Linked DNA regions of Homo sapiens: region 2 is linked to region 1. Evidence: fine-mapped expression QTL. A gene starts in region 1. The other region holds a variant in brackets. All regions are shown on one strand. Distances are from middle to middle. Region 1 holds the start of ITPKB-IT1 (ITPKB intronic transcript 1). Region 2 overlaps ITPKB (inositol-trisphosphate 3-kinase B).

Region 1 (4,390 bases):
AGCTCAAAAGGTGAAATAAGAATAAAGAACAGCGATCTGCAGTTTTCCTATTATCCAAAAGCCTACTACCCAATTCAGTGGATTGTTTTGGCAACTTGCTTGGATAAACTTATTTAGAAATTATTTCAGAATTCCTCCAGGCAGTTACCCTACGTCCTTTTTAAGTCAAGGTGTGGTATAAGTCCATTAACGAATTAAAATACTTCCAGATTTCTGTGTTATTCTCAAGGCACTTTTGCTAGATAACAATACCTCACACTTGGACGGTGTTTTGTGGTTTGCAAAGCACTTTCACATCTGTTTTCTCACTTGGTTGCCATAATAACCCTGGGAGCCGGGAAGGGCATGTCTTGTTATTATCCCTATTTTGCAGATGAGGAAGCCAAGGTTTTTAGAAGGTTGGGTGGCCTAGTCAAGGTCACACCGGTAGGGGAATTGGGGGGATGGAGGAAACTAGAGCTGTTTTTCCTTAACCATCTTGCCTCTCACTGAGATGAAACAGCAGGATGGTTCCTGGGACCCAGGATCCCTTTGAACGCTTGGATTAAAATAATTTATGAGTTCTTTGTGAGTGTGTGTGGACCTGCTGGTAGTGGCTTTTCTTCATTAGAATTTGCATGCAAGATTGACACTAAGATGGCTGACTTTCACCATCCCAAACCAACCCTGTTTTTGCACCGTGCTGTAGTGGTATGAATTACCTTGCAGGTAATTGTGGCTTAGGTGATGGTACACAAAAGGCATCATACAGCAGCCAGATGTTCATTTTACTAAATGGAAAATATGACTCAGAACACGGGCCAATCTGAGCCTCCAAGCAGGCAAATTAGCCATTGAGGATGAAGTCTTCACCTCTGGAGAGGAGAGAATGTGGGAGCACAGAGCCCAGAGTCAAATGATTTGGTTGAGATCCCCCCACTTTGGTTATTTAGACTTGCTTATACTCCTCTGACCAGACTATGGGATCTTCTACAGAAATTCTACAGAAGTGTGGGCAGAATTACAAGTAAGGTGGGTTGAGGAAGTGCACAGGTGGAAGTGTAGCCGAGAGGATGCGTTTGAGGAGCAAGAGGCTGGGACTCAAGAAGGCTTTATGCAGACTCGAATCTTACATTGATAACAAGCATTTGCGTAGCACATACGAGTTTCATCCTATGAAGGATTCCATAGGATTCTCACAGCAGCCCAAGGATGTGAGCAGAGCAGTAAACAATATCCCTGTTTTATAGAGGAAGTAGAAATCGAGAAGCAGGAAGGTTGGGTAATTTGCCCAAAGTTCCACCACTAGTAAATCGCAGAACTGGGACTAAAGCCCAGGTCTTCTGACCCTCACTGGGCCCAGCGTTCTTTCCAATATGTCATCCTGCCATTTTCCCCTTCCTTCCTCCTCCCCACAGCTCCTTGCAAGTTCAGCCTGCTGGAGGTAAGGGAAGTGATCATGAGAGTTTTTCCAGTGCTGAGACGTTCTGGAAAAAACATGGACCTGTATCTGTGTCCTGATCTGTGCTTCGTGATTGGACTGTCTTGACACTCGTCTCAGGACTCTGGGGAGTGCTTGTGCAAGTGTTTCCCAGTGTGGCCGGCTTCTTGAACGCTGCTAATGGAAAGTTGTAAGAGTTCTATTTTCCTGTTTCAAGCGAGCGTTTCCCCCTTGGGGTTATAGCAACCACTTCCTCCTCAGCACCCGGTGGGTCGTGGTAAACACCAGTTACAGCAGAGTATCCCCTTCTGACAACCTCATTGGTTCCTTTTTTTTTTTTTTTTTTTTTTTTTGCCTGTAAGCACATACACACAGAGTTCTGAAGGCTAGGTCTCCTTTCCTTCTGGTTTAGAGTTTTCAGAGTACCCTGCTGTGGCCTTGGAAACAGAAAACCCACACAGAGGTCAAACGCAGTTCTCGTGGAGTCACCTTGTCATCCTGCTTTGTTTTGGAAGGAACTGGGTCGGAGGCAGCACAGTAGGACTACAGCATCTTTAACCCTTGGTAGGATGGCTGGATCCGCTGAACGCTTGTGGGTAAACAGGAAGCTCACAGCCTCAGTGGATCATTAAGGGTGATACAGAATAGACACGAAAATCTTAAGTGGGATGGGAGCAGAGCAGGACTTGGTGGGTAGATAGTGAGGAAAAGGAGGCAAATAGGGATGGTGAAGAAATCGAAAGGGAATGGGGGATACAAGGAAAGGGTCAGGAAAGGGTGAGTAAAAGGTTTAAAGAGAGGTGCTAATTTTAGATACTTAAAAGTATTTTAAGTATCTAAAACTTGTGGCTGGGTGTGGTGGCTCACTCCTTTAATCCCAGCACTTTGGGAGGCCAAGGCGGGCAGATCACCTGAGGTCAGAAGTTCGAGACCAGCCTGGCCAACATAGTGAAACCCCGTCTCTAACTAAAAATACAAAAATTAGGCCAGGCACAGTGGCTCACGCCTGTAATTCCAGCACTATGGGAGGCTGAGGTGGGTGGATCACGAGGTCAGGAGTTCAAAACTAGCCTGGCCAAGATGGTGAAACCCCATCTCTACTAAAACTACAAAAATCAGCCAAGTGTGGTGGCAGGTGCCTGTAATCCCAGCTACTCGGAGGCTGAGGCAGGAGATTGGTTTGAACCTGGGAGTTGGAGGTTGCAGTGAGCCGAGATGGTGCCACTGCCCTCCAGCCTGGGCAACAGTGAGACTCTGTCTCAAAAAAAAATGTGTATATATAAATACTTAAAAAATATTTGTAATTGCTGGTTTGGGGTTACTAGAATCTCTTCTGAATCTGTCTCAGTTTTTCTTACAGCTTTTAAAATCCATGGAACTCTATCACCAGGAGATGATTGTGGTATGGAGCTGATCACCCCGGAGTTAGTGGGGTGGCAACTGAGATCGGGGGGAAATGGAGCAGTTTGAGGATATATGGGCCGTGAAAACCTCCCAGCTCTGCCCCCAGCCATGCCATGAAAGTCATGGGGAAGAAAGGCCCCCATTTGTGTGTTTGTGTTATTAAATAGAACAGTAACAGAGCAGGTCTCTGAGCCTGCCTGGCAGAAATCTTTCTGTAGCAGGAGTGTCCTGCAACTCTCTGGTGGATTTGCAAAACAGTACAGATAGAAAAACTTAAATGGGAAACAAGCTTGTCTTGTCCTACTTTGTGGAGATAGATAATAAAGCCGAAAGGCCAAGAAGTGTAAATATATAGCATATATCTAATGTATATGGTATATGTACATATCAATCTATAGCTATGCAATATCTACACTATTTATCTATGTTTATACGATGACTCTAGGCTTCAGAAGACCTGTCAAAGATTTCCATACATCTAGAGAATTTAGAAGGATCCCTTTATAGGTGAGAGTTGAGACTTTTTGGCTGCAGGTTGGGATTTGGTGGACTAGTTCCTGGTACCACCACCTAGTTGCCGTGATTATCTTTAGACTAACCAAGGCCCTTGTGTTAGCCTTCCGTAAATCATCCCCACCCCTAAGCAAGACAGCACCTATACCTTCACAGTTTCTCCAGTTCATCCCTGTTTTATTTTATTTATTGTTTTTTGAGACAGGGTCATGCTCTGTCACCCAGGCTGGAGTGCAGTGGCACGAACATGGCAGCCTCTACCCCTGTGTTCAAGCAATCCTCCTGCCTCAGCCTCCCGAGTAGCTGGGACCACAGGTGCGCGCCACCACACCTGGCTAATTTTTGTGTTTTTTATAGAGACAAGGGGTCTCACCATGTTGCCCAGGCTGGTCTTGAACTCCTGGCCTCAAGCAGTCCTCCTGCCTCAGCCTCCCAAAGTGTTGGGATTACAGGCATGAGCTACTGCATCCGGCCCATCCCTGTTTAAATGGGAATATCCAGAAGATTGTCCTTGTCATACACTCGGTGCATTTTAGAGTGTCTTCACCACTTGTCAGAAACAGGATTCTGGTTGGGAAGGGCCATCATTCACAGTGTGGCAGGTTTTTGCTTTGTTAATTACTGGAATTGGGGTACAGAAGCCAAATGCAGGTTCTCCACCTGGGACCTTCTTCCTGTTTGTCTGCCCACTTCACACCTGTCTTAGCAGCTGCAGCCTGAAATAGTGAGATGGCTACATTGCCTGATCAAATCTGGGATTTATGTAGTGATAACACCTCCCAGGAGATAGATTTCTTCGCCCTACCCCAGTGCTTCCCACACATGCCCATGGACCAGCTCTTTATCTCTGGCATGAAGATTCCTCCCACTTCCCTGTTGCTGAGATCCTTAGGCCTTTAGAGGGCAATTCTTTCAGCAGGGATTGCAGCTCCAGGTTAGAGTGGGAGTGAGAAGAAGCCATATGCCTCACACCGAAAGACAGCCGTGGTCTTGTCGACCTAATATCTGAGCCAAGGTGGAGGACAGCTGCCCAGGACACACTTCCAAGTTGCC
Region 2 (4,390 bases), 26 kb after region 1:
TCAGCCCCTGTCCTCTCTGAGCTCTGCTGCAGGGATGTGACCCACGGGTGGTGACCGGCTGTGCACTCTCCCCCTGGACCCACCGTAATGGCTTCCCCCTGAGCAGGGGCGTCCCCACGAGCCACTGCTGGGCTCATCTTGTGTAATGAGGTTTTTCCATTGTTGCCCTCATGCATTGTGTGCCCTGATTGTTTATGCAGCCTTCTGGGTGCTTAGATAAGAAATGCCTCCGCTGGCTCTAGCCTTCTTTGGCGATCTCCATCAGAAGGATCTAGGAAAAACATCCTTGTCAGTAAAGCCTCGGCCCTTTTGTCACATGGCCTCATGGGGCGCTGCCCTCTCTTAAGAATAGAATTGGTCTTGGCGGTGGGGTGAGAGTTTCTGGGATGGGGATAAGAATTACCAGGTTTAGTAAGGAAGAATTCCTCTCCTTAAATAGATTTTAACTTGAAAACCTGATGACAGAAGCGGCTGAGTCTCAGCAAAGAGAGAAAAAACAAAGGAGGCCGATTTCACCTTGACTTCACCTTGGGGACCCAGCAGCCGCCGCTGACCCCTGAGGGCTGCAGCTGGGCGCTTCGGGGCAAGGAGTGGGAACCACATCTTCAGTGTGTCCCCCTGTCAGGCAGTACCACCCTCATCTCCTCTGCAAGCCACATGGCTTCTGCTCTCCGTGGTTTAGCTGGTCCAGGATCCACTTTCTCAGGAACTCACAATGCTTCTCATTCAGGTTCTCATCGCCCCCCTGAGGACGGGTGTATTTTGGGGACACTTGATCTTCATCTCTGCAGCCTGTTCTTATTAAAGTTCACTTAAGGATATTTTTTCTAAAAATATGTTTTTTTTTTGTTTTTTTGTTTTGTTTTGTTTGTTTTTGCTGGGGAAGAAAAGAATTTTATTAATTTTATTTATTTTCAAGTAGTTGTATAAATGAATGTTTAAATCCCAGCTTCGTCATTTACCTCTCTGAGGCTCAGGCTCCACCAGATGGAAATAGAAAAGAATTGACTTGCATGCTCATTGAGAAAATAAAATAAGATGCTCAATATACCTTAGTTCTCCTTTCTGCCCAAAGGGCCTGCTCTCCCCAAACACACATGCACGCACACACATGCACACGCACACACTCATGCACACATATGTGCATATCACACACGCATGCACACACATGCACACATCACACACATGCACATATCACGCATGCACACACTGATGCACACATATGCACATACATGCACATATCACACATGCACACACACGCACACATACGCACACACTCATGCACATATCACACATGCACACACACTCATGCACACATGCACACAATCACATGCACACATGCACATATATCACATATGCACACATACGCACACACTCATGCACACATATGCACACACACATGCACACACACGCACACACACATGCACACTCCCAGTCCTGGCTGTTTTCACTGAAGAAACATCCTGAGAGGGCGGAGCGCGGTGCAGAGGAGAGAGCTGTGGGCTTGCTCCCTCCTGTGTGACCTGAAGCCATCGGTGCAGGTTCTGTTCTGAGGAATTTCTTTAAAGTCTCTCTTCAAACCACTCGCAGGCAAGAGGTGCCTCTGGTGCCTCCGCATCTACGAATTGAATATGAACTAATGTGGTGCGGCTGGGTGGTTGTGTCCTCTCCAGCCTTCCTTGGAGGGGTCGTTGCTCTTGGGACAGGGGAGTTCCCCTGAGCATTTTGCTCAGGCTGTTTGTTAAATGGGGTAAAGCCACCTCCCACCATGTGCCGCATAGGTGATGGTGGTGGCAAGGTCCTCAGAGCCCGTCAAGGGCCCTTCCCATCTTGTGGCCACAGGCAATGAGGGCCTTTGCTTTGAATTTGTCCTAACCAGAAATTAGTGGTTGTCTTTCTAATGTAGAGCTTTTTGTTTGTTTGTTTCTAGAGCAAATCATGGAGGAAGATAAAAAACATGGTGCACTGGTCTCCCTTCGTCATGTCCTTCAAGAAGAAGTACCCCTGGATCCAGCTGGCAGGACACGCAGGTAGACACAGCTCTCCCAGACTTTCCCAGCATGGTGCTCAGCCCTCTGGGGAGGTGCCCTGGACGCTGCATTCTGGGGATCAAAGCTCCAGAGCAAGTTCCCTCCAAGACTTTCTAGTCTGAAATCACAGCCACACTTGCAGGCTGCGGCCTTACCAATGCCTTGTAAATGCCATAGACAAC[G/T]GACCTCTCTGGAGTCTGTGTTACCCCATCCTCCAAAACATGCATCCTCCCCTCCCTCGGTCTCTGGCTCTTATCTCTGTCTCTTCCAGTCTCTTTCTTTCTGTCTCTCTTCCCGTTGTATTCAATAAGACAGATGAAGCCATCAGTCTTTATAGCTTACCTGCCATTTGTCACCCTGGACAAAGAGGCAAAGCTAACCCCTTCATTGAGCACCTACTGTGTGCCTAAATTGCCATGGTCCTGGGGGTTGCGGCATTAATGGAGATGTAGTTTCTGCCCTGAGGGAGCCTGCAGCTGGTGGAAGATGCGGCCAAGCCACCCCATAACTGCAGGGCGGTGTGCGGTGTTGGGAGGAAGGTGGCTAGGAGCTGAGTCCAGGCAGTGCCGGGGAGAAGGGACATCTGGAGCCGAGGCCCCAGAGCCATCTAGCCCACATGTAGGACCCTCTGGAAGCACTGTCATCTGGAGACATGTCAGGGGCTGCCTGTGGACTTGGCCTTCGTGACTTCACCAGCCTCCTCAGGCCAGCACAAGGTCCCGCATTTCGCTTACCTCGTTGGCCACACTGGCCCAACTCAAGGCACATGGATGGACAGCCTGTGTGAATACTTACTTGGTCTGGCTCAGAAGAAGTGCCACCCAGGTGGGCTGAGCCTTAGGCCCCCCAGCTTCTCAGCCTGCTGTATCTCCCCACCTTGGCTCTGAATCCTGTCCAATCAGGGTTTCTCTACTGAGGCCAGGAGACACCTTCGTTGCCGAGAAGCAGGGCTGATGATGGAGGTGAGGATGAAAATAGCAACACTAAGGAATGACTGGGTCGTGGCACCTCAGTCTCTCACCTAGCTCTGTACCCTTCCAGCAGGGAACACTGGTGAGGAGGAGTCTGGAGTCAAGGAAGCTGGGGAACCAGCTCAGAATTACAGTTAGTGAGTGGGGACTAGGTCTTGAACCCACTCCCCTTAAGGTGCTCAGTCCATAGCAGGGACATAGACACACCTTCAGCCCCAGGCTTAGCCATCCCCAGGGAGGCCCAGACCCTGTGCTGGGGAGGGTGCCTCTGCCAGCTACCTGCAGCCGGAGACCAGGAACCTTCTACACTTGCTCTCCAGGGAGTTTCAAGGCAGCTGCCAATGGCAGGATCCTGAAGAAGCACTGTGAGTCAGAGCAGCGCTGCCTGGACCGGCTGATGGTGGATGTGCTGAGGCCCTTCGTACCTGCCTACCATGGGGATGTGGTGAAGGACGGGGAGCGCTACAACCAGATGGACGACCTGCTGGCCGACTTCGACTCGCCCTGTGTGATGGACTGCAAGATGGGAATCAGGTGAGCCAGGCTTCTCGCAGCCCACATGCCTGCCTCAGTGCAAGCCACATGGCAGGTGCACAGCGTGGCACTCAGGGCTTCCCGGAGGCCTCACAGGTGCAAGGGCAGGCTGAGGAGGCTGTTGGACCAATTAGAGCCTCCCCATCCCCAGGCATCTCCCATTATTTGCAGAGGGTTCCGGGACCTGGGCTTTGCCCATGATGGCCCCTTTCCTTCTCCAGTGAGCAGAAGCCAGGGGCTGGCGGAACCAGAAAAAGGGCACCGGCTGGGTTCTGAGGCCCCCTAGAGAGAAGGAAGAGAGAGCTGCCCTTGGTTCAGGTGGGATCGCTGGGGGTGCGGGGAGCCACCAGGTAGGGAGGTCGCAGGATGGTGACTTCCTGCTGTGTGAGCTGCAGGGGAGATGGGAATCGAGGTCTTTCCATTTCCCCAGCCCTGGTGAGTGGGAAGAGAGAGTGGCTAGTAGAACATGCTGGTTTCCCAAAAAAGACCTGTATCTGCCTAAAAGGAGGAGGAAGCCCCTGACGGAACTCAAGAAACCCACATGGCAGGTCACCGCAGGGCCCCAGGTGAGCCCGGAGCAGTCACTGGGCCTGTGTGCAGGACTGGCTCCCACCCCCAGGTTCCTGACAGGGGCTCAGGCTCACCCTGACACCTGCCCAGGGGATAAGCCTGGAGAGGACTCCAGGGAAGAGGAGAGAGGAAGAGGGGGCTTGAGGAGGCAGGGCAGAGAGCAGACAGGGATGCCTGAGGCCGGCTGCTGTGATCTCGGGGCTCAGTTTTAGGCAGCCGGGTTTTCTCATTACCTCTCAAACTGCTGCCCTTCCACCCTGAGTCATCCACAGCACGGCTCCTTCT

The links. PIP is the estimated chance that this variant, and not a neighbour inherited with it, causes the effect. A credible set is the group of variants that fine-mapping cannot tell apart.
Region 2: its variant is the best candidate, but not a certain one, in a credible set for the expression of ITPKB-IT1 in whole blood (TOPMed, PIP 0.70).

Annotation. Positions count from the first base shown.
Region 1 is chr1:226,672,511-226,676,900 of GRCh38, reverse strand. ITPKB-IT1 (ITPKB intronic transcript 1) reads left to right here and starts at 1,833. Exons shown (of 2, transcript NR_103784.1): 1 at 1,833-1,984. The region is part of intron 2 of ITPKB (inositol-trisphosphate 3-kinase B); the gene reads left to right. RefSeq lists a silencer at 702-851.
Region 2 is chr1:226,646,312-226,650,701 of GRCh38, reverse strand. ITPKB (inositol-trisphosphate 3-kinase B) reads left to right here. Exons shown (of 8, transcript NM_002221.4): 3 at 1,931-2,030; 4 at 3,322-3,535. Among named protein-coding and RNA genes, the nearest start is that of ITPKB-IT1, 27 kb to the left of the region's middle. RefSeq lists enhancers at 675-764, 3,031-3,922 and silencers at 560-854, 4,043-4,243. The variant G/T (reference allele first, on the strand shown) is at 2,213.